3 separate regions of the Homo sapiens genome follow, and regions 1 and 3 are each linked to region 2. The links come from fine-mapping of genetic effects on gene expression. A gene starts in region 2. Each other region holds a variant in brackets. All regions are shown on one strand. Distances are between the middles of the regions.

Region 1 (8,164 bases), 260 kb after region 2:
GGACTCAACATGTTAAGTGACTCCAGCATGGGCCTGCTGGACCCCTCTGTTGAAGAGACGTTTCGAGCTGACAGACTGTGAACAGAAGGCAGTGGAACAGAAGAATGTTTTTCTGCAACAGCCAAAATAGAATGGAATAGAATGAAGCCAGCTGATACCACGGGCTTTCGTTATCTTGACATAGAAGGAAGCAATGCCACGGCTCCAGGGTTTCAGATGAGATCCCATCTCAGACACTGTGGCTTCCTCCAGATCACACAGCTTTGTACTGCCTCTCCCGCCTGTGGCCAAAGTCGTGTTGCAGCAGGCAGGCTGCTTGGAGCTTCCCATGAACTGGAAAGCTCACCTCCACTGCATCTTTTTACTGGCCATCCAGTCAGCCGATGTGTAAGAGTAGGAAATACTGTGTCACTGGAGGCCTCCGTAGCATTGTGTAGTGTGCTCAGAACCACTGATCTCCGTCCGCACCGAAGGCGGGCCCGGAGTGGGAGGCTCGGCCTGGGGCGGCGGCACCGGAGAGGGCACCTCGATGCCTGCTCTGACCTGACCCAGAGGGCGAGGCCCTCCAGCGGGGGACATTCCCAGGCTGAGTGGACCCCACGGCTCTCTCCCACGCCTGGATTACGACATGAAGTTTTTACCACAAGCCCGAGGGCAGGCTTGAGTTAGGCAGACTGAAGGCTAATTTTCATTTTCTCCCAGCTGGTTTCTGCTGCTTCAGAAAAGTACACCTTTTCCTTATGGACCAGAGGAAGAGGAAGACCATTTTATCAGTCACTGAAAAGAGTCCCCTGGCACTGATGAGCCTGAAGAGAACTGTGCTCCTCCTCGGGGGCTGGGGAAGGAAGACAGGGACTGCAGGTGTCTCATACTCAGTGGCCTCCAGACAAACTCCAGACAAGCACAGACCTCCCCACTAAGAGCAGCCAGAGGGAGCTGGTGAGGCCCTAACCCCACCCACCGAGCAACTGAGCTTCCCCATCCCTCCCCAGAGCTGTGTCTCTGTGGGCTGGGAGTCTAATGTCACCCCCCTAGACCGTAAGCTCCTTGAGGGCAGGGACAGTGCCTTATCATTGTTGAACCCGTAGCACCTAACACGTGCGTGGCAGCACAGTCGTGTGCTGGAGTGAGTGCTGCAGAACCGTGCGTGCAGCGCATGATGAATGAGTGCGTCCGCCATGCCGTAAGGCAGGCTCACCTGTAGCTATCCCCTTCCCTGCCAGATCTTCTCAGAGCTTTAGCTTTTCTAGCACTCGTGCCTATGGTGAAGCATGCACTTTAATATGCTTTTAACACTAGGTGACCAAATCACAGTGAAGCCGGGCACTGCATTCTCCTTGGGCTGTGCTCCACGCGGGTGGGTGGGAGCTGTCTTCTGAGTACATCCGGAAGGGCTGAGCAGGTGAGTGCCCTGAGCATCCTGGCTGGGCCCCACCCAGGAAGATCTTCCTTCTCAGATCCACGTTTGGCTCTAAATTGCTTCAAGTAGAGATTCATTCTTTGAGGTTGAAAAAATAGTTTATAGTAAAACGAAGGCCTAATTCATGGAAGCATCATTAGTCATCAATACCTTCTCATAAAATAGATGGGCCAGATTTCCACCACCGCCTGCCTCCTCTAACTTGGGTGATGCCAGTAGGTTTGAAGGGGGCAGAGCACTGCAGGGGGAGGGGGGGGTCTAGGCTGTGAGAGGACAGGGTGGAGAGGAGGAGAACCCTGAAGGAGAGACGGAAGATGCCAGGACCTTTGCTTGGACAGCCATTGCCCTTCCAGGAGACCCTGGAGTGTACTGAGGGTTGCTGGACTGTTCCACCCAGAGGAGCAAGGCTGTACAATGAGGGTCTGAATCTGGCACACCTGTCCCTTATGTAAAAGGAGTCGTGGTCACAAGACCCTGGGCTGGTTAGCCTCTCCCGACCTCATTCCATTTCTATCTTCTGACCTTGCCTCTCATCTTTAAAATAACCCTCATGGGGTGCCCCTCCACCTTCCTCTGGAATCCAAGTATTCCTGTTTCACATTTGCCCCAAATCTTTGCTGTGGAATTGGGAAATCAAACCAGAGTCCTCCTCGCCTGATTTCCAGCTCAGGAAGGGCCTGCTGGCCTGCCCTGTTCCCAGTTACACTTTCAGATCCCTTTGTGCTCAAGATCTCAGAGGGGGTGGCTTTTTGTTAAAGAGCCTTCAGTCGCAATGCTACCCAGCACCCCATGTGCCAAAAGAAACCAGCTCCTGTGTCAAAGGGCTTCCAAACCTGATCTCACTCTCAACAGGCGATGGTGCTGATGTTTCAAGAATTGTGTTTTTATAAAACAGAGGTCTCAGCATAGTCACTCTTCACATAGTGCCTTACCCATGGGTATCGTCATATCCGGGTCCCAGTTCAGTTTGTCTGCACAGCAGCCACCCTGCCTGGCAACAGAGACCCCAAGACCTACACAGTGAACCCTACTGCCCCAAAGGCGTTCTCCAGGTGACTTGTGAAAACAGACCTCCGGGGAAGTGATTTATTGGGGGTGTACACTGGGGGCAATATGGTTTAGCACTGAATTCAATTTGTCCTTAGGTCTATGAGTGAGTCCGATCTTTTCTTGTGAAAGGTTTTGGGCATCGTACAACCCACTCTGCCTAGAAGGTGTGGAGGACTCACCACGGGCAGGGTCGCCCTGGCCCACAGCACGTGAGCCTGCACTCACTGCGGCCTTTGTAACAAAACCAGTTGTGGTCCTCAGCATTTGAAGCAGCTGCATACTTCAGAGTAAACTATTTTTCATTATTTAGTTTTGTCACAAGAAATCGACCATTGTACTACTCTCACTTACAGCAGTTAAACAGCATAGAACTAAAAACCTGTCTGCATTTCCATTTTTTCTTTCTGTATGGTTGTGGGTTTTAGGACATAGGGGGTTAGGAGAAGGGGTTTCTTGATCATGTCATGAATTCTCCTTTGTCCTGTTTCTCCTGTTTCATTTCTCCTCCGCCTGCTGTATATTACCTGAGCTGGTGTTGTATCTTCAAGTCCATATGCGTATTTGCAGACCTTTCCTGTTCCCACTCTTGTTGGCTCTTCTGATTTATGCACAGATGGTTCCCAGCATGTGTCCAGTGCTTCATGGATGGGACCATCCCAGCAACTAATCAGACTTCCTGCCAGTGTCCTAACCCCCAGGGCACCCTGTTCAACCATATTTAAAAATTGGAATTTGTATAAAGTTGCTTCCAAGTTTTATAATGCATCATTTTACATCTTTTGTAATTAAAAGCATCACAATGAGGTTGTCTCTGCATTTGGTGGTGTTTTTCTTCACTTGGGTGAGGGGTTGGTGGGGAGCCTTAATCTCACCGCCTCCTGCACGGCTCAGCCTGCAGCTAGGATTTGGAGCCTTGGCAAGGCAGGCCCTGTACCAGCTGTGGGTCAGGCCTTCTTGTGATACGTGAAGGGGCACTCAGTTCCCTTAGCTGGAGGCAGCTGGGTCTCCTGCCCCCACAGCCAGCACCCGCTCCACACCCCTGCCCACGGCCCTTCCTCCACCAGATACTCTGTCCTGGGTTGGCCTCTAGCCCTGTCCCTTCCCCAGACCCCCATCCCAGCAGGGTTCAACGCGAACAGCCACATCTAGCACTTGTCATAAAGGTGACTGTCTCCTGAAATCCTACCTGGAAATCCTGTTTCTGACTTTAACTTCCTGAGCCCCCAT[T/C]TCCACTCTGGTCTACACACACCCTGTTCTTTGACCGCACTGAGAATTCTTCCGTGTCCCCTCTTCTCAGCCTGCCCGTCCTCTCCTAGCTTCCCTTGCTTCTGCCCGGGCCCACCTGGCTCGTGGCCTCCGTGGCACCCCCAGGCCCCTTCTCCTGCCACCACGCCACTCTTCCTCCTCAAGACCTGCCACCACGTCACTCGGGCTGAGCTTTCTGTTGCTGGGAGCCCTGCGGGAAGAACCAGCACTTCCAGGCTGTGCTGACCCAGCCCTCTCCTGCCACGTGGGGCACCCACGCCCTCCTCTCCTCAAGGCTCATCAGACCACATGAGGCCTTCTTGCCTCCCATCCAGGCCACCTGGGCCAGCTCCCGCCGTGTCCCAGCTGCTCCCCATTCCGTCCCATGGCCCGTCGCGCCTTCCCCAGCGTCCCTATGCCTTACGAGGTCCTGTTTCCACGTCAACCTGACCTTCCGCAAGGACTTGCTGATGTTCTAGGGCCTTCTACTTAGCCCTCTCTGATGGCACCTCCCCATCAGCCTGTGAAGATGCCCAGTCTCCTTCCTCAGAACAAACAGAAAACTCTCCTTTCCCCGCCGGCTACCCCTCATGCCACAGCCCTGTGTCCTGCCTCTCCTGGAGGAGCACTCCTGCTCAGCCTCCTTCTGCCCGCAGCCCCAGGGAGCCCTCCAGGATTCCCTACTCTCCTGCCTCTGTCCAAGGCCCTCTGATGTCAGCCGCATCCTGACCCTTTGGCCACTCTCTCCCCTCCGAAATCCTCTCTGGCTCCAGTAAGGCTTTTCTGCATATTCTACCACCCAGGCCATGCCTGTCTCCTATCATCCTCCCCCTCCACCATCATCTTCTTTCCATCGACCTCCCAAACCAACTTCTCCAGCCCTCCAAGCAGACGACCCTCATACTTAGCCCTCTCCCCACCTGCCTATCAGCCAGTGCTCATGCCCACCCCACCCCTTGTTTTCTGGAGATCCGGGTCCACCTGCAATTGACATCCAGCTTCCCCACAGGGCTCCAAACTCTGCAAGCACAGGGGCATGTTTACTTGTATGCCACTTCCCCAGCACCTGGCACACAGTAGGGGCTCGAAAAATCCGCAAATTCTTCCGAACTGTTGACAGCAGCTTCCTTCTCTTGGAGCTCAGCCCCCATCACCGCCATGGAGCTGGAGACCAGGTGTCCTCCAAACACCTCCTCTTCCTCACCTCTCCTCCTCCTGCACACCCCAACTCCTCCACACCCACTCCCCCTCTACAATCCTCCTCCTCCTCAACCCTCCTCCTCACCCCTCCTCCTCCACAATCCTCCTCTTATTCCACACCCCTCCTCCTCCAACCCCTCCTCCAAAGCCCTCCTTCTCCTCCACACCCCTCCAAATTCCACAGCCCTCCTCCACCTCTACACCCACTGCTCCTCCACAATCCTCCTCCACACCCCTCCTCCTCCACAATCCTCCTCCACACCCCTCCTCCTCAATCCTCCTCCACACCCCTCCTCCTCAATCCTCCTCCACACCCCTCCTCCTCCACAATCCTCCTCCACACCCCTCCTCCTCCACAATCCTCCTCCACACCCCTCCTCCTCAATCCTCCTCCACACCCCTCCTCCTCCACAATCCTCCTCCACACCCCTCCCCCTCACCCCTTCTCCTCCACCACACCCCTCCTCCTCCACACCCCTCCTCCGCCTCACACCTCCCTCACCCCTCCTCCTCCACACCCCTCCTCATCCTCCACACCCCTCCTCCGCCTCACCCCCCTCCTCCTCACCCCTTCTCCTCTCCACATCCCTCCTCCTCAACCCTCCTGCTCCACATCCCTCCCCCTTCACACCCCTCCCCCTCCCCCTTCACACCCCTCCTCATCCTCCACACCCCTCCTCCTCACCCCTCCTCCTCCTCACCCCTCCTCCTCCACACCCCTCCTTCTCCTCACCCCTCCTCCTGTGCCATCTTTTCAAACACAGGATACTTTAATCTTGAAAAGTACTGAATTTGTATACTTGTTTTGAAATACTAAATTTTCGATCTGGAAGGAATGATTTTAGATCTTATTTTGGGCCAGGCACAGTGGCTCATGACTGTAATCCCAGCACTTTGGGAGGCTGAAGCCGGAGGATCACCTGAGGTCAGGAGTTCGAGACCAGCCTAGACAACATGGTGAAACCCCATCTCTACCAAAAATACAAAAATTATCCGGGTGGGCGTCTGTCATTCCAGCTACTGGGGAGGCTGAGGCAGGAGAATTGCTTGAACCCAGCAGGCAGAGGTTGCAGTGAGCAGAGATCACACCACTGCACTCCAACCTGGGTGACAGAGCGAGACTCTGTCTCAAAAAAAATTAAAAATAAAAATAAAAAAAGATCTTTTTGGTCCATTTTACCTAATAAAGCTGTATGGTAGGCAGGTATGGAAATTGGGGTTTACAATAAACCAGCTATATGCTGCTATGTCCTCATGTGGACACTAGGTGGAGCTGCAACTATAAGAGTGGCTCTTAGGACCCAGAACAGGACAGAGAGCCCCGGACCCCCTCAACTTTAGCCCTTGAACTGGGCTGGCAGTGGTGTTGGCTAGAATTGAATTGTATGATATGGAGTAATAAGTATCCTTAGTGACCACCCAGACTACCAGACACTGCACCGTCAGAAGCATTCAAACCAGAGTGACTCCATCTTGAACAGGGGCTGTGGGTAAAATGAGGCTGAGACCTGCTGGGCTGCATTCCCCGGAGGTTAGGCATTCAAAGTCACAGGAGGAGACAGGAGATAGGCACAAGATACAGATCACAAAGATCACACTGATAAAACAGGATGCAATAAAGAAACTGCCAGAACCCGCCAAAACCAAGATGATGACGAAAGTGACCTCTGGTTGTCCTCACTGTTCATTATTCACTAACTATAATACATTAGTTGCTAAAAGACACTCCCAGCAGCGCGTGACAGTTCACAAGTGCCATGGCAACGTACGGAAATTACCCTATATGGTCGAAAAGGAAGAGGAACCCTCAGTTCCAGGAAATTCCCACCCCATTCCTGGAAAACTCATAAATAATCCACTCCTTATTTACCGTATGATCAAGAAATAACCATAAGTCTACTGAGTCGAGCAGCCCGTGCTGCTGGGGTAGCCCCTTTTTTATTCATTTACTTTCTTAATAAACTTGCTATCACTTTGTCAGCTTACTTTTGAATTCCTGCATGAAGCCAGGAATCCATGTGGCCTCCCAGGCTGAACCCTGTGACAGCACCACACACATCCCTCACATCAACCTGAAAACGAGGCAGGGCATGGAGGACTTCTTTTTTTTTTTTTTTTTTTTTTCCGAGACAGAGTCTCGTTCCGTCGCCCAGGCTGGAGTGCAGTGGTGTGATCTTCGCTCACTGCAACCTCCGCCTCCCGCGTTCAAGTGATTCTCCTGCCTCAGCCTCCCGAGTAGCTGGGATTACAGGCATGTGCCAGCACACCTGGCTGATTTTTGTATTTTTCGTAGAGATAGCGTTTCACCATGTTGGCCAGGCTGGTCTCAAACTCTTGACCTCGGGTGATCCACCTGCCTCGGCCTCCCAAAGTGCCGGGATTACAGGCGTGAACCACTGCCCCTAGCCAAGGATGACTTCTTGAGTTTACAGAAGAGGAAACAGGCCCATAGAGGCTCTGTCACCCAACTAAACAGTGAAGGCACAAAGCCTGGACCCAGTGGGCCTCACATCAAGGCCTCCTGACCTCACCAGCCCAGAACCCAGGGCTCCAAAGTGCATCCTTCAGGATCTGCTCACAAGTTTCCCTCCCCTGTGCACCCCCGGCCCCCGACTACGCCCATCACCAGGGTGAGGGGTGCGGAAATGAATCGCACCCTTCACCCTGCAGAGGTGGGCTCTGAGCAGCCCCTCTGGGAAGGGTCCCCACGGATCCCAGTGAGATAGAAGCCTGGCAAAGGAACACGTGTTTTTTTTTTCTCTCTCTCTTTTCCAGACATGTATTTTAATTTTTTAAAAAAGCTTTGCTCTGATAAAAATAGTGCATGCTCATTATAAGAAATTCAAGTAACACCGAAGAGTACCAAAAACAAAAATTTCAAGTGGTCCGGAAATCCAGCACCCCAGAAATAATCATGGCTGACACCCAGGAAACATGGATGGAGACATCTCTCTACGCACATATTCAAAGGAGTTTTTTTAACCAAAATGGGCTCATACAATACATACTCTTTTTAGAAAAAGTGCCATACTTAAATTTAACAGAACAAAAGGCAACTTAAATGTAACTAAAGAAATTACCAAGCTGCAAATAATGACGCTGCTTCTTCTGGTTCTAAATTATTTCTCTAAAGGAAAGAAAAATATTAAGCAGCTGGATTCATTCTTTCAGCATGTTTCAACTATAGATGGCATCTCTTGACAACCTACGATTTAGGATAAGGAAATGAGCTCACCACCACTTCCTAGC
Region 2 (8,180 bases):
AGCTGAGATTGCACCATTGCACTCCAGCCTGGGTGACAAGAGTGAAACTCCATCTCAAAAGAAAAAAAAAAAGAAAATGTAATAGGAAATCTAATATAGACAATATAATAGGCACAATTTATTCTTTATTATTATTTTTTATTTTTATTTATTTATTTTTTTGAGATGGAGTCTCGCTCTATTGCCTAGGCTAGAGTGCAGAGGCATGATCTTGGCTCACTGCAAGCTCCGCCTCCAGGGTTCACGCCATTCTCCTGCCTCAGCCTCCCGAGTAGCTGGAATACAGGTGCCCGCCACCATGCCCGGCTAATTTTTTTTTTTTTTGTGTTTTTAATAGAGCTGGGGTTTCACCGTGTTAGCCTGGATGGTCTCAATATCCTGACCTCGTGATTCGCCCACCTCGGCCTCCGAAAGTGCTAGGATTACAGGCGTGAGCCACCGTGCCCGGCAATTATTATTATTTTTTAAAAGACAGTCTCGCTCCGTCAACCAGGCTGGATTGCAGGAGCACAATCTCGGCTCACTGCAACCTCTGCCTCCTGGGTTCAAGTGATTCTCCTGCCTTAGCCTCCCGAGTAGCTGGGACTACAGGCGTGTGTCACCATACTAAGCTAATTTTTTTGTATTTTAGTAGAGACGGGGGTTTCACCATGTTGGCCAGGCTGCTCTCGAACTCCTGACCTAAGGTGATCCACCCACCTTGACCTCCCAAAGTGCTCGGATTACAGGTGTGAGCCACTGTGCCTGCCCTAGTAGGCATAATTTTAAATATTTGAAGATGTTGAATTAACTGAGTGAGACTTAAAAAAAAATTTTCAGGAAATTTCAGAATGCTCTATGTCCTCGTTGCCATTGCGGCTGCCTTTCTCAAGAATGCCTGGCCTAAGGAGCGGGTGCTGGTCCTGTTCCTCACCATCGGGGGCCTAGCTATAAATCTGACCCCAGTCTGCCCCTATACCATGTACTCCACCAGGATCAACTAGGCCACGCCCCACAACAACCCAGTGCCCCTCCGAGATGATGGGAACATGCTGGACATGCCCAGCCACCCCCAAGGCCCAAGCATGGAGTGGTTGAAGAAACTGCAAGCACTTCCATTGACATGGAGAAGACCATGTCCCCTGTGGCCCCCAATAAAAATGTGACCCCCCCGCCTCCGAAATAAATAAATCATTCAGTTTCTGAAAAGTGTTTGGTAAAATGTGCTAGACTTATAAATAGAATAATACAATTTGTAAAGTGAACTTAAAAGCTTAAGAATGAAATAACTTTTTACTTTGTAGGCTTAATAAATGAAACCCTTGCCCACTTTTCTACAGGGGTGTTTTGTTCTTACAGGTTTTCAAGTATCTTTAATAGTCTGAAGGAAGAGTGAATACATTGAAAATAGCTGGAGCAAAACATCTGGAGTCAGGCTATGATTTGGCATGCTAAATCATGCTGAACTTGGCCCATTATCTTGAAGGGAGGAATAGAAAAAAAAATTTAAAAAGAGAAACACAATTGCATTTGCACTTTAGAGAGAACACCCTGATAACTGTGAGGATCTAGTTGGCAGAAGGGCGACTACAGTGTAATCACAACAGGGATGGAGACAAAAGTAGACATCTCAGAAATAAACACAGATTGGATGTAGGGTGCGAGGCAAGGAGCCTGGGGTGTTCCCACTGGGAATTGAGTACTTCTGTGAATAGAGAATATAGCAGGAGCAGGGTCAGTATTTGACACGTGGGATTTGAAGTGTCTGCCCTATACACAGGTGAAAGTGTTCATTAGCTGAAAATACTGAGGGACTTCCAGACGATCTGGTCTGGTGATACATATCGAGGGGTCCTCAGCAGTTATAGGCGAGTGTAGAAAAGATTACTGAGTAGGCAAAGAATAAACGGAAGAGGGCCGGGCGCGGTGGCTCACACCTGTAATCTCAGCACTTTGGGAAGCAGAAGCGGGTGGATTACCTGAGGTCAGGAGTTCGAGACCAGCCTGATCAACATGGTGAAACCCTGCCTCTACTAAAAATACAAAAAAAGTAGTTGGGCGTGGTGGCGGGCACCTATAATCCCAGCTACTTGGGAGGCTGAGGCGGGAGAGTCGCTTGAACCCGGGAGGCGGAGGTTGCAGTGAGCCGAGATCGCGCCACTGCACTCCAGCCTGAACGACTGAGCAAAACTCCGTCTCAAAAAAAAAAAAAAAAAAAAAATGCCGGGCGCGGTGGCTCACGCCTGTAATCCCAGCACTGTGGGAGGCCGAGGCGGGTGGATCACGAGGTCAGGAGATCGAGACCATCCTGGCTAACACGGTGAAACCCCGTCTCTACTAAAAATACAAAAACTTAGCCGGGCGCGGTGGCGGGTGCCTGTAGACTCAGCTACTCGGGAGGCTGAGGCAGGAGAATGGCGCGAACCCGGGAGGCGGAGCTTGCAGTGAGCCCGGATCGCGCCACTGCACTCCAGCCTGGGCGACAGAGCGAGACTCCGTCTCAAAAAAAAAAGAAAATAAAAAAAAAGAAAGAAAGAAAAGAAAAAAGAATAAACAGAAGAGGGCTGCGGACAGAATACCGTTGAATACCAATATCTGAAGGGCAAGCCACAAGGTGCAGGGGGCAGAGGCATCCCTGATACGGGAAAAGAGTTATTTTAAAAAGAACTTGCAAAGAACAATGTCAAGGGATCCAAAGGTAGGGAATTTGGACAGAGTTCGGCTTTAGCATCCGCATCTCAAATACCTGGGTACCTGGGTAATCTGGTGACTGCTGCCGAATCTAAGAGGACTGAGGCCAGGTTGCCAAACTGCGGAGAGTGGGGTTGGAGGGCTTTCATGGCAGTTTGGGGCCTGCTTGTGTCCAACAAGACAACCTGGGTCACCTCAAAGGGTGTCTTCTCCAAATATTGGTGCAGAGGTTAGCTGGGCCGGCAAGAGAAGGGAGATGACCCACTATTTTGATTTCAGGCAGCAGACACCGGCAGCCTTTCGGTTAGAGTTGCGGATAGGGCAGTGGCCTTGGGGGCGGGGCTATAAACCTGGGCGGGCATTCCCGGCAGGGCAAGCTCAGCGTGAGCCCGATTGGAGGATGGGCTCTACCTTCTTCCTTCCGCCTACGGAGACCATAGCGGGATGCAGGGCGGGGCCGGGCTGAGGGGGCGGAGTTAGGGGCGGGGCACGGTGACTCTGGCCCCGCCTCTTTCCGGCCGCTCAGGGCGGTGTCGCTGGGGCGGTGCCGCTGGGGCGGGGCCTGCGGGGTGGGGCTGACGGCACGGGGCGGGGCCTCGGGGACCCCGGCAAGCCCGCGCACTTGGCAGGAGCTGTAGCTACCGCCGTCCGCGCCTCCAAGGTTTCACGGCTTCCTCAGCAGAGACTCGGGCTCGTCCGCCATGTCCGCCGCAGACGAGGTTGACGGGCTGGGCGTGGCCCGGCCGCACTATGGCTGTGAGTGCGGGGCTCCGCGGCGCGGGGGCTTCGGGCTGGGCTAATTGCAGACGAGGCGCGATTTTCCTGGGGGCTCGGCCGGGCGGGTGGGGCAGGGCGGCTGCCGGCAGCTCGGACCCGGAAGAGCCGTCCCGGTGGGGCGGCGGGCGGCGGGCGGGGAGGCCCCTGGTTCGCGCCCCCTCGGGGTCCGAGGCGGCGGAGAGGACCCCCGAGGCCTCCCGCCTTAGCTGGGGCCGCGGTAGGGGGAGCCCCACCCAGCGCCTCTCGCCGCCCAGGCTCGGCCGAGATTGGGGAAGACGGCCTAGAGTGAGGTGGCAGGATGACCGCGCAGGGCGTGTCCCGGGGATTGGGGGTCTGGGTACGCGGGCTCTGCCCGTTTCGTGGAAAGGCGCTGCCCTAGTGTTGCCTGCGGGGTAGACCCAAGGGATAGACCAGGGTCCAGACCTGTCCGGTCCCAGGCTAGCTACGAGGTGCCGTCCTGGGCAAGTCACTTCAGTTTTCTCGGGCTTAGTTCCCTCCTCAAGATTTCAAAAGTAAAATAGTAATAAAGAAAAAAAAAAGAAGCAGAAAATCCTCTGACTTCCTCATTTTCTGTTGTCGGCCCTGGACGTCATTGAACTGCAGGCAGGATTGGCTAAAGGAGGACCCTTTGGGATTTTGAGGTTTTCGGTTTTATTTTATATTGTGGGAATAATGTTCTTTTTTAAAGGATCAACATTTCACGCATCAACAGTTATACGTGAGGTATTGTGCCACGTTTGTGAAATTAAAGATGAGTAAGATCAGGCCCTGTCTCCAAAGAGCGTTTTAATCAGAGAGTCAGGTGTGCAAGCTAATGATTATAAGGTGCAATAATGATAAAAGATGCTGAACTTACTAGCCATACAGAGTAATGTAGGTAAGGAGAAGGGGCCTGGGGAAGACAGTATGAGCACGGGAGGTGACTTTTTTTTTTTTTTTTTTGGAGACAGGGGGTCTTGCTCTGGTCGCCCAGCCTGGAGTTCAGTGGTGCAATCTCAGCTCACTGCAAACTCCACCTCCCAGGTTCAAGCGATTCTCCTGCAGTCTCCCGAGTACAGGCGTCGGCCACCACACTGGCTAATTTTTGTATTTTTAGTAGAGACAGGGTTTCACTGTGTTGGTCAGGCTGGTCTCAAACTCCTGATCTCAAATGATCCCCACGCCTCGACCTCCCAAAGTGTGAGCCACTGCACCTGGCCTGAAGGTGACATTTGAACAGAGCCTTGAAGAATGCTGTGTAGAAAGTTTGACAGGTGGCCAGGCATAGTGACTCCTGCGTGTAATCCCAGCACTTTGGGAGTCCGAGGTGAGAGGATAGTTTGAGGCCTTGAGTTTGAGACCAGCCTGGGCAGCACAGTGAGACTCCATCTCTTAAAAAAAAAAAAAAAAATTAGCCAGGCGTGGTGGCCCATGCCTGTGGTCCCAGCTGCTTGGGGCTGAGGTAGGAGGATCATTTGAGCCCAGAAAGTCGAGGCTGCAGTAAGCCATGATTGTGCCACTGCACTCGAGCCGGAGTGACAGAACAAGACCCTGTCTCAAAAAAAAAAAAAAAAAAGTTTGATAGGGCATGTGGAACAAGAGACAGGACCTGAGGGAAGAGCATAAACAAAGGTATTGAAAGTAGAGGGATACTGTGTTGGGAACTGAGTGATGTAGACTGCACAGTGGTGGGAGGAAGGGAAGAGGAGAGTTTCCAAAAATAGTTGGGACCAGACTGGGAAAGGCCTTGAATGCCTTCCCAAGGAGTTAGGAATTTATTCCACACCTGGTGCCCATGAAGGAAGCAGATTGCTTCAAGGTTAAGCTCAGGCTTTGGAGACAGACTCTCCAGGTTTGGATTCAGGCCCTGTCACTTATTTGCCATGGGGCTGAGTTCACCCAGCCTCAGTTTCTTCGTCTGTAAAATAGGAGTGATAATCACAGGATTGTTGTGGGGTTTCAATGAGAGAATGCGTGTAAAATGCTTCGTACAATTACTGCCACTTATGTCTCAATAACTGCTGGCTTTGGTCATTAATAAAAGAGGGAAACAATATTATCAGATCTGTATTTAGAAGGAGTTCTGGCAGATAGGGACAGATTTGTGCCAAAATCTCAAGACAGTATTTTTCAAGATTACACTGAAACTTAGTACATATTTATATTATCATACATTTTTAAAAAGGTCAAGATGATTATAGTTGAAACCACATAGTTCTTTTTTTAAGAAAGTCATTGTAGTACACCTGGCTGGCTACACACTCATTAGTTATCCTGACTTTCTAGGTGAGTGGCAGGAAATTGATTCTGTGGCAATCTTTTATCACTCAGGAAGGCTACAGATCCTGGTGTTTACATTCTTTCTTTTATGTTGTAGCTGTCCTGGATAATGAAAGACTTACTGCAGAGGAGATGGATGAAAGGAGACGTCAGAACGTGGCTTATGAGTACCTTTGTCATTTGGAAGAAGCGAAGAGGTAAAGATTGGCTGGCTGGAGAGAAGATTAAGAGAAGGGAACTGATAATAGTGTGAATACAAATAAAGATTGCTTTGAGGCTGAACACAGTGGTCCATGCCTGTAATCCCAACACGTTGGGAGGCCGAGGTGGGGGGGAATCACTTGAACCCAGCTGTTTGAGACCAGATTGGGCAACATAGTGACACCCCATCTCTACAAAAAAATTTTAAAAATTAGCCAGGCATGGTGGTGCATGCCAGTAGTCCTAGCTACTCGGGAGCCTGAGGAGGGAGGATCACTTGAGTCCGGGAGGTCGAGGCAGCAGTGAGCCGTGCTCTCACCACTGTGCTCTAGCCTGGGTGACAAAACTCCTGTTTTTGGTGGGGGGAAAAAAAAGAAAAGATTTATTTGAGTATGTTATAGATGTAACTGGGAAGCTGGTGGTTGAGGGAATAAGTATAGGTAGGGTATTTATTTATGGCAATAAGTAGCCTTGATGAGAGTTTATCATGAATCACTGTGATGGGCATTTAAGTGTACTGAACGGTTTTCCAGGTTTCTATTGTTCAGTCTTATGCTTATTGTGCATGTTTTGGGCGTTACCAACTGTGGGGTGGAAATAGCATTTTTAGGATTTGAAGTTATTGGCTTTAATGTTTCACTTATGCTTCATGAATTTTGATTTATATATGAATTGAGTCTCCTCCTCCTATGACCTGCGGAGTGGCTGCTTGGTTTGGGAGGCTTAGAAGCGTGGTGCTGTTGGTGTAGGTCCATCTGTTTGGCAATATTCAGAGTCAGCATCCTCTGCATTCTTTGTGAAGTGAATGTAAAGCTGCTCTTTTCCTTTTTCAGATGCCCCACAACCTTGTGGTCTTAATTTTAGAGTGTCATTTTGTTATCAGTGATTCATTTCTTTTGTTCTGGTGCTTGTGTTCTTTTGCAGAGTCCCAGGGTAGATGTAATTATAGATCATGTATTCTATAAGTGAGCTTTGGTGGAAAAGTCAAGTGAGGGATAATGAAATATTTGTAATTAACGTTTAATAAAAAGGGTGTTTGAAGTGGTGCTAATAAACAAGTGTGTGTGTATGTGTGTATTTTAATTCTGAAAATCTTAAAATGCTACAAGAAAGTCCAGAGAACAGTACAACAAACATCATTGTATTCCAGAACTAACAAATGTTAACATTTGAGATATTTCCCTTTCCTCTAAAAACAAAACAAAACAAAACCAACATCGCTACATTTAAAGTCTTTTTTGTGCCCCTCTGGTCCCATTCTTCCTTCTCCTGGGGCAAACACTAACCTGTATTTTGCATGCCCTCTTGTGTCTAGGCTTCTTTTCTGAGCTTAAAACTTCCAGGAAACTGGAGCTTGGGTTTCAGTGATGACTTAAGTGAGGAGGATAACACTTGTCTTTCTAAATAATAGAAGATGACATAGCAAGGCATGCTATATCACTAGAAAAGGGGGCATTTTCTCATATGAAGTTTATAAGAAAACAAAAACTGTAAGATCTCTGCCATTTAAATTGTGGATTTCAAGGTTTGGAAGGTCAAAGAATTTGGAAGCTGCAGCTGTTCTGAGAGACCATCTTGTGCTCTGTGGAGCTTTGGTGATTCCACTGAGGTGACCTGGGGGTGAGAGGGAAGAGCTTCAACACACCTTCCTTCCCCCATCCAAAGTAGCTCTGCTTTTGTTTTACTGTTGAATTTCTTGAATAAAATTCACTTGTTACAGAGGGTGTTTTGGCTAACACCTCCCCTCCCCCAAACACTACCAATAACTAGTTCAACTGCTAATCTAGTTCAACCATCTCATTTAATGAAGAAACTGAAGCCTGAGTTTTTTGGTCTACTTGTAGTTTTCTTGATTGAAGAATGTTTCTATCTTTTTTTTTTTTTTTTTGTACAGTCTCGCTCTGTTGCCCAGGCTGGAGGGCAGTGGCGCAATCTTGGCTCATTGCAACCTCCACCTCCCGGGTTCAAGCGATTCTCCTGCCTCAGCCTCCTGAGTAGCTGGAATTACAGGCATCCGCCACTACGCCTGGCTAATTTTTGTATCTTTAGTAGAGACTGGGTTTCACCATAATGGCCAGGCTGGTCTCAAACTCCTGACCTCAGGTGATCCGCCCGTCTCAGCCTCCCAAAGTGCTGGAATTACAAACGTGAGCTGCTGTGCCTGGCCTCATCATTTTTTTAACTATGGTTGTTAACCAGGTGTGTGCATTAGAATCACCTGGGGAACTTAAAAAAAAAAAAAAATACACCTATCTGGGCCCTACCATAGAGAT
Region 3 (8,180 bases), 50 kb after region 2:
ACCCCATTTCTACAAGAAATAAAAAATTAGCTAGGCATGGTGGCATTCACCTGTAGTCCTAGCTACTCTGGAGGCTGAGGTGGGAGGATCACTTAAGCCGAGGAGTTTGAGACTGCAGTGAGCTATGATTGTGCTACTGCACTTCAGCCTGGATGACAGAGCGAGACTCTGTCTCTAAAAAACAAAACAAAACATTACCAAATATGTGTGTCTGAGTCCAGATCAGATTAATTCTGAGTATTTTGTTTGGCTTAGTGTTGCATGAGATTTGTCCATGTTGATAATCTTGTGAAGGCCTTACCTGCAATGGATATCTGAACGTGGAAGCAGAATTCCTCTCTGCTAGTTGTGTAGCCACTACTCTGCAGTGTAACCTGGGTTCCAGGCCCTCAAATTCTCTGTAGTAGAGCCTAAAGAATTAACTATGCCTTCCTAGTGGTAGAGTCAGAATGAGAAAGAGAGGAAGTCTGCTATTGTTTTCCATTTCTCTTGAATATGTAGTCTGTGCTTAGAAAGTATATATAGAGCAGTGTGTTTCGTGATTTATGGTTTCTTTTTTATGGTGTTTTTCCTGAAGGGTGGATTGGCAACATTTGATAATATGTAGGAAGTATTTATAATTGCTGAAAGTGCCTTCTTTTACCACAAAACACAGCCATGTTCAAAGCAGGTTCCTCACCTTGCTATATTGGATAAGGCTCCATCTCCCTTTGGATCAACAGTGACAGAAAAATACTACCTCTCTGTCTCCTCCCTGCTTGCCTTTTTTTTTTTTTTTCCTCTAAAGTCTTGATTGGCATTATTCCAGAGATAGTCACTGTACTTTAATCATACTAAATTACTTTTGTAGATAACATTCCACTCTCAGATAAGACCCCAGTTTTCCATTCTCAAAATACTTGTATACTAAGTTTGGTGTAAGCTCATTTGTCTCCTTAGTATGATTATGTTTGTGTGTTTCTCTGCAGAAAGTAATGGATTGGATTGAGGATGCTGCCCCAGGGCTTGCTGGGGATACTTTATGATACCATATACACTGTAAATAGAAATACACTTTCTAATATCTGAGAAATTCAATATTCAGACATATCTGGCTCCAAGAATTTGGATAAGGGACTGTGGACCTGTAGTAGATTCTGTTTCCTAATCACCTGCTGTGTTTCAGGGTCTTTATTAATAATCTTTGAGATTGGCATAGTGACTTCTAGGTTACTCACCATTCACAGAAAAGATAATTAGAATCCAGATAGATTAACATAGCTTCCTTCTGCCCATTGCTACAAAGTACAGCTTAAGTAGGAAATAAGAAAAATAAATCTAAGTGCAGTTACAGGCTGACGCATTATAGTGCCTAACAGTATATTTGTAGAAGTAGGCATGGGAGAGCAGGAGCAAAGATTGGAAAGTGCTGTTCACCATTAGGGTTTATAAGTTTCAGTGTGAAGCTAAGTACTTTTGATTGTGGGTAAGAGGACTTAACTGGCCGTTTTGAATCCTTTCATAGCTCCAGTGTCTCCATAAAATACTCGTAATAATTAAAGAGAGTTAAAAGAAAGATGGTGCCCATGTCTACTTTTTATATTAGCCAGTGATACGGTTGTAGCACCTTTAATTTACCACTGAAAGACATTAAAAGCTAAGTCAGTGTTCCTGGTACTGTGAAAGCAACTGTATTAGTCCGTTCTTGTACTGCTATAAAGAAATACCTGAGACTGGGTAATTCATAAAGAAAAGAGGTTTAACTGGCTTAAGGTTCCACAGCCTGTACAAGAAGCATGGCTGGGGAGACCTCCTCAGGAAACTTACAATCATGGTAGAAGACAAAGAGGAAGCAGTCACGTCTCACGTGGCAGGAACAAGAGGAAGAGAGAGGTGGGGAGGTGCTTACATACTTTTAAAAAACCAAATCTAGCGATAACTCACTCACTGTTAGGAGAACAGCACCAAGGGGGAAACCTGCCCCCATTGATCCAATCACCTCTCACCAGGCCCCCACCTGGGGATTACAATTTGACATGAGATTTGGACAGGGACACAGACCCAAACCATATCAGCAACATTCTTGAACTTTCTTAAAATTTCTTGTTCGCTATTTCCAAGTAGGAATAAATGAGAAAGAAATTCTTGGAGAAAAATATTCTCTTAATTAAGAATGCAGATGTGATGTATTAGTGAGAAAAATATATAAAAAATATATAAAAATGTATAAAAATATATAGAAAGTTATTAGTTATTTTGCTTTGGAATTTCTTTTTTAAAGAGGCAGGGTCTTACTCTTTTGCCTAGGCTGGAACGCAGAGGTGTGATCTTGACTCATTGTAACAACCTCCCAGGCACAAGCTATCCTCCTGCCTTAGCCTCCCAAATGGCTAGGACTACAGGCATGCACCACCATACCTGGCTAATTAAGAAATTTTTTTTGTAGAGACAAGTCTTGCTATGTTGCTCAAGCTGTTTTGAATTCCTGACCTCAAGCTATCCTCCTGCCTCTCTTTCTCAAAGTACTGGAATTACAGGTGTGAGCCACTACACCCAGTCTGGAGAATTTTTTGAATACATTTAAAATCTTCTGAGACAGGCGCTTTATATATCCATCTTGAGTCTTTTACCTGAAAGAAAAGCATTTAATCATATACACATGACTTATACTTGCACTTCTCTGAGAAAATGTTTAGCTTCTGTGGATGTATAAATTCTAGTGTGTTTTGAGAATACTTGATTTTTGTTTTTCTATTATACATTTGGGTTTATTATATACAATTTAAATTTTGATCAGTTCTGTGATTGCAGTGTACATGATGCGTGTTTGTATTTAGATGATATTGAGGTTTATAGATTATTTACAAAAACTGTATACCACTTTAAGTTTCTATGATTTATTTCTTATATATTTCTTATTTCCCTGCTTACTTTAAACTGTCAATATCTTGCTTTTGTCAGTATCTGTAAAGTACCCTTCTGATCTCTTCTAATTTATTGATTCTGATCAGTTAGGGCTTTAGAATCCACTTAATAACACAGGCTTATGGACATTAATTTATCCGTCCATCCATCTGTCAAATATTGATTAATGTTTATTAATATATGCTAGGCTCTGGGTAAACATTAGTGAATGAGCCCTGTATTGTCCCTGCTTTCATGAAGCTTAGAGTCTAGTTGATTTTTTTTTAAGTTTAAAAAGTAAAAATAATTTTCACCAACCTGATAATTAAAAAGTAAAAATATATGAAATATTCTTTATCTAAAACTGTTAAATTACCTGGATTAAACTTTTCCATCAGTAATATGAATTCAGTTTAAGTAAGATTTGCCATCTGAATCATTTTTATGAAGCTTTTCTAAAATGTCTTATTATTTAAAACTTATTGATTACAGGAAGGCAAACAAATGAAGAGACACTTCACATTATATTAACATTAATGTTAACATCTTTTTTTTTTTTGAAACGGAATCTCACACTGTTGCCCAGGCTGGAGTACAGTGGTGTGATCTCGGCTCACTGCAGCCTTTGCCTCCCAGGTTCAAGCAATTCTCCTGCCTCAGCCTCCTGAATAGCTGGGATTACAGGCACATGCCACCACGCCTGGCTAATTTTTGTATTTTTAGTAGAGACAGGGTTTTGTCATGTTGGCCAGGCTGGTCTCAAGCTCCTGATGTCAGGTGATCCGCCCACCTCAGCCTCCCAAAGTGCTGGGATTACAGGCATGAGCCACTGTGCCTGGCCATTAACATCTAATTATGCATTGAGTTTGTGCCAGAACCGGGACTTTAATTTGTGCCTACTGATTTCTCCCAGTCCAGTGCTCTTTGCATTGTGTTATGTGACTTTTTAGGACAATGTTGTCATGTAAACTAAAAAAAAAAAACTGAGGTAAATAGCGTATTGTAACTACAAAGGAGACTGTCGTAGGTACTGGGAGTCTCAGTGTTCAGAATACTTCTATTTTATACTTCATGCTGATTTTCGCCTTTTAAGGGTGGCAGCTAGGCACAGCTGGGAGGCCTAACCTTTTGCATATTGTATCTTCTAGTTTGTACCTGTTCAAGCTAGGCCTGGCCCCTCAGATTCAAGACCTATATGGAAAGGTTGACTTCACAGGTAAGGAGTTAGATACTTGGCAGGAAATGCTTGAATTATGTGGAAATAGCCTGGAGAGCCAGCAGTACCAATTTTGAAGACCTAGGGCTTTAAAAATACACTGGCAGTGGAGGTGAAAAAAATACGAATAACTTGCTTCTCTAATGTGGGGTAAAGAACACTAAACTTGAAATTTCAAGCTCTGTTCTCTCACTTAATAATGTGAACATGATTAGTGAGTCTCAGTTTTCTTATATGTAAATTGGGGATAACATTAACATATATAAAACATAATAATGTTAACACATAACACTAAATGTTCGGGTATGTTGAAAAAAGCTTTATAACTATCTTTCCCTTTCCATTCCAGCAAGCATCTGTTGTGGGCAAAGCAAGAGGGAGAGTGGGGAGTGAGATGACACAAAGATGCCAATTTAGTAATTTTAAAATTTAAGCTTATTTGGGTGGGTGTTTCTATGTGTATTTGCTATAGCCAGATGCTTGAAGAGATGAGGGGTTGGGGAGAAAAAGGGCAGTGGTAATACTGTTTAAGGGTAAGATAGATTCAAGTCTTTCAAAGTGGTGATTATTTTGTAGGCTTGAAAGTTTAAAAATTGGTAAGAAAGTTTTTGTCCATGATATTTTTTCCTTCCAGGGAAGTTATTCACCAGACCTGGGGAAAGGACCAGACCTTACATGTTTTCTTTATCATTTGGCTTTCTGCCTTAGAAATGAAATTGTTGAATAGCAGCTAATGATTGTAAAGACTGAGATAACTGACTTAGTTTGTGATTCACTTATTGTTGAGCTCACGTTAAAGCTGTTCCATTTATAAGTTCATTGTAGGAAATGCC[A/G]TAAGTAGCAATTTTGAAAAACTATTTCCTGTAGGACCTTCTCACTTTATAGTTATTTTTGATGCCCTTGATAATAATAACGTTTGACTACATTTTATATACTAGTTACTGTGTTAAGTGCTTTCCATACATTGTATCTTTATATCCTTATAAAACCCTAAAAGGTAAATGCCATTTTATCCCATTGCATAGTTGAGGAATATGTTTCCTTCTCTTGGTTATGGAAGGGTGCTTAGCTTGATTGACTGATTATTAATTCCCTCCTGTAGAAGAAGAAATCAACAACATGAAGACTGAGTTGGAGAAGTATGGCATCCAGATGCCTGCCTTTAGCAAGATTGGGGGCATCTTGGCTAATGAACTGTCAGTGGATGAAGCCGCATGTAAGAAGAGAGAAATTTTGTGGGTTCAACTGGGATTGTTGCCACTATTTCCAATAATTAATTCTATAGTGATGATCTAGGACATTATGAATCTTGCCAGCAAGTTTAAGTCCACAGATGTAGTTGTAAACACATAGTCTTCCATGCTGTTATTATTTGGAAATACATGATTAATTCTGATTAAAGTGAAAGCATTTAGAAAGGAAGTCCTGGCTGGGCGTGGTGGCTCACGCCTGTAATCCCAGCACTTCGGGAGGCCAAGGCGGGTGGATCACCTGAGGTCAGGAGTTCAAGACCAGCCTGGCCATGGTGAAACCCCGTCTCTACTAAAAATACAAAAATTTAGCCGGGCATGGTGGTGTGCACCTGTAATCCCAGCTACTCGGGAGGCTGAGGCAGGAGAATCACTTGAACCCAAGAGGCAGAGGTTGCAGTGAGCCGAGATCATGCCATTGCACTCCAGACTGGGCAACAAGAGTGAAACTCTGTCTCAAAAAAAAAAAGAAAAAAAAAGAAAGGAAGTCCTACATTTCCGTGGCTCATTGAGTTTCTTATTGTTTTATGGTGTTTACTTGGTAATTAAGGCAGATATCTCCAGAGCAAGTGTTCCTTGCAAGGCTCTCTTATGAGTGTTTCTCTGTGAGATTCTAAATTCACCATCCCAGACATGGATCACAGATGGAGCTGTGGCTTTGCATACTGTAAGGAAGAGGCTAGGCTCATAGCCTGGCCCAGGGAGCCAGTCTTCGAACCCCAGTTGTTATTTCTCTGTGAAAAGGAGCCTCTGTCTCTAATGGGGGGTGCAATGTTGCTTTCTGTTGTGATATACATCCTGTAATCTATATAATCTCAGTGTTTTTGTTGGTTTGTTTTTTTGTTTTTTTTTTTAGTACATGCTGCTGTTATTGCTATTAATGAAGCTATTGACCGTAGAATTCCAGCCGACACATTTGCAGCTTTGAAAAATCCGAATGCCATGCTTGTAAATCTTGAAGAGCCCTTGGCATCCACTTACCAGGATATACTTTACCAGGCTAAGCAGGACAAAATGACAAATGCTAAAAACAGGGTAAAAATGCAACATCTATTCTTTCTAATTAATTTATATTATTCCGTCATTTGATATGGCTCCAGTTTAAACATCAGTTTTATTGAGATGCAGTTTACATACAACAAAATTCACCGGATTTTAAATGTACAGTTTGAGTTTTGAAAAGTATATGTGATCATTTAACCATCACTCCCAGAAAGTTCCTTAGTGCACTTTTGCAATTAGTTTCCACCTTACCCACACCCCTGAGCCCAGGCAACTACCAGTCTATTTTCTATTGCTGCCATTGACCTTTTTAAGAATTTTATACAAATGGAATGATGCAGTATCTAATCTTTTGGTGTGAGGCTCCATTTTGACCTCTGCTTCTTGAATTTTATATAAATAAAATTCTAGAGCGTAGCCATTAAAATTAATAGTGCCCTTTGGAAAGATTATCTCTAAATATTAACATAGTCTTTCCTCTTTCCCAGATTCTCTGGGGTAAAATGTTTGTGTACAGTTGTTATGGGTATGTGGAAGTTAGTTAAATGATTCTGACTTGAAAAAACTGAATCTGAGGATCTCATTTCCCGAGGTCAGGAGTTTGAGACCAGCCTGGCCAACATGGCGAAATCCCATCTATACTAAAAGTCAAAAATTAGCCCAGCGTTGTGTTGGGCTCCTGTAATCCCAGGTACTTGGGAGGCTGAGGCAGCAGAATCTATTGAACCTGGGAGGTGGAGGCTGCAGTGAGCCAAGACTGCACCAGCCAGGAGACAGGGCGAGACTCCGTCTCGGGGGGGAAAAAAAAAACTTCACACAAATTTATCCACCCCTTGTTAAAATTAGTGGTTGATGACAAAACGAAGACAATCCTGCTCTCAGAACATTCTTTGTATCTCTTATCATAGAGCAGGGATTTCAGTTTCCCAGTTAGGTGCCAAACTGGCCTGCAGGCAAGTAGCTGCTGCCCTGCCTCTGCCTATGTCACCAGTGAGACTCCAGGATTGTGGATCTGTATGTGCCCATTCTGCTCAGATCTGAGGCAAGGATGTGCTGCCCCTAATCCCAGCACTTTGGGAGGCCAAGGCGGGCAGATCACTTGAGGTTAGGAGTTTGAGACCAGCCTGGCCAATATGGTGAAACCCTATCTCTACTAAAAATACCAAAAAAATTAACTGGGCATGATGGTGCACGCCTGTAGTCCCAGCTACTCAGGAGGCTGAAGCAAGAGAATCACGTGAACCCAGGAGGCAGAGTTTTTAATGAGCCAAGATGGTGCCATTGCACTGCAGCCTGGGTGACAGAGTGAGACTCTGTCTCAAAAAAAAGACAGAATCTCGCTCAGTCACCTAGGCTGGAGTGCAGTGGCACGGTCATAACTCACTGCAGCCTTGAACTTCTGGGGAAAGCAATCTTACTGTCACAGCCTCCTGAGTAGCTGGGACTACAGGCATGTGCCACCACATTGGGCTAATAAAAAAAAGTTTTTTGTAGAGATGGGGTCTCGCTATGTTGCCCAGGCTGATCTCAAACTCTTGGCTTCAAGCCATCTTCCCACCTTGGCCTTCCAAAGCACTGGGATTACAGGCATGAGTTACTGTGCCTGCTTTGTTCTTTATAAAGGGTCTTAAGCTACACCCATATTCTTGGTAGTGTTATGGTGCAGGAGGAGCACACGTGTATTTATGTGGTCTTCTTAGACACCTTAAGCTAACTTAATTACGCTTTTTACTCATCCTCAGACAGAAAACTCAGAGAGAGAAAGAGATGTTTATGAGGAGCTGCTCACGCAAGCTGAAATTCAAGGCAATATAAACAAAGTCAATAGT

Evidence for each region. PIP is the estimated chance that this variant, and not a neighbour inherited with it, causes the effect.
Region 1: its variant is fine-mapped to the expression of IQGAP1 in cerebral cortex (GTEx, PIP 0.96).
Region 3: its variant is fine-mapped to the expression of IQGAP1 in whole blood (TOPMed, PIP above 0.99). The same link has a PIP of 0.9 or more in blood mononuclear cells, cerebellar hemisphere, cerebellum, esophagus muscle, hippocampus and nucleus accumbens.

The regions. Positions count from the first base shown.
Region 1 is chr15:90,642,060-90,650,223 of GRCh38, forward strand. CRTC3 (CREB regulated transcription coactivator 3) reads left to right here. Exons shown (of 15, transcript NM_022769.5): 15 at 1-3,286. The coding sequence ends at 81. All of the region lies in intron 2 of CRTC3-AS1 (CRTC3 antisense RNA 1), which reads right to left. Among named protein-coding and RNA genes, the nearest start is that of LINC01585, 14 kb to the right of the region's middle. RefSeq lists a silencer at 4,545-4,728. The variant T/C (reference allele first, on the strand shown) is at 3,698.
Region 2 is chr15:90,384,971-90,393,150 of GRCh38, forward strand. It overlaps IQGAP1 (IQ motif containing GTPase activating protein 1), which reads left to right and starts at 3,272. Exons shown (of 38, transcript NM_003870.4): 1 at 3,272-3,426; 2 at 5,804-5,903. The coding sequence starts at 3,372. It also overlaps the pseudogene NDUFA3P4. RefSeq lists a silencer at 2,996-3,775.
Region 3 is chr15:90,435,301-90,443,480 of GRCh38, forward strand. IQGAP1 (IQ motif containing GTPase activating protein 1) reads left to right here. Exons shown (of 38, transcript NM_003870.4): 6 at 4,032-4,099; 7 at 5,202-5,315; 8 at 6,206-6,384; 9 at 8,094-8,178. Among named protein-coding and RNA genes, the nearest start is that of IQGAP1, 51 kb to the left of the region's middle. RefSeq lists a silencer at 1,764-1,964. The variant A/G (reference allele first, on the strand shown) is at 4,933.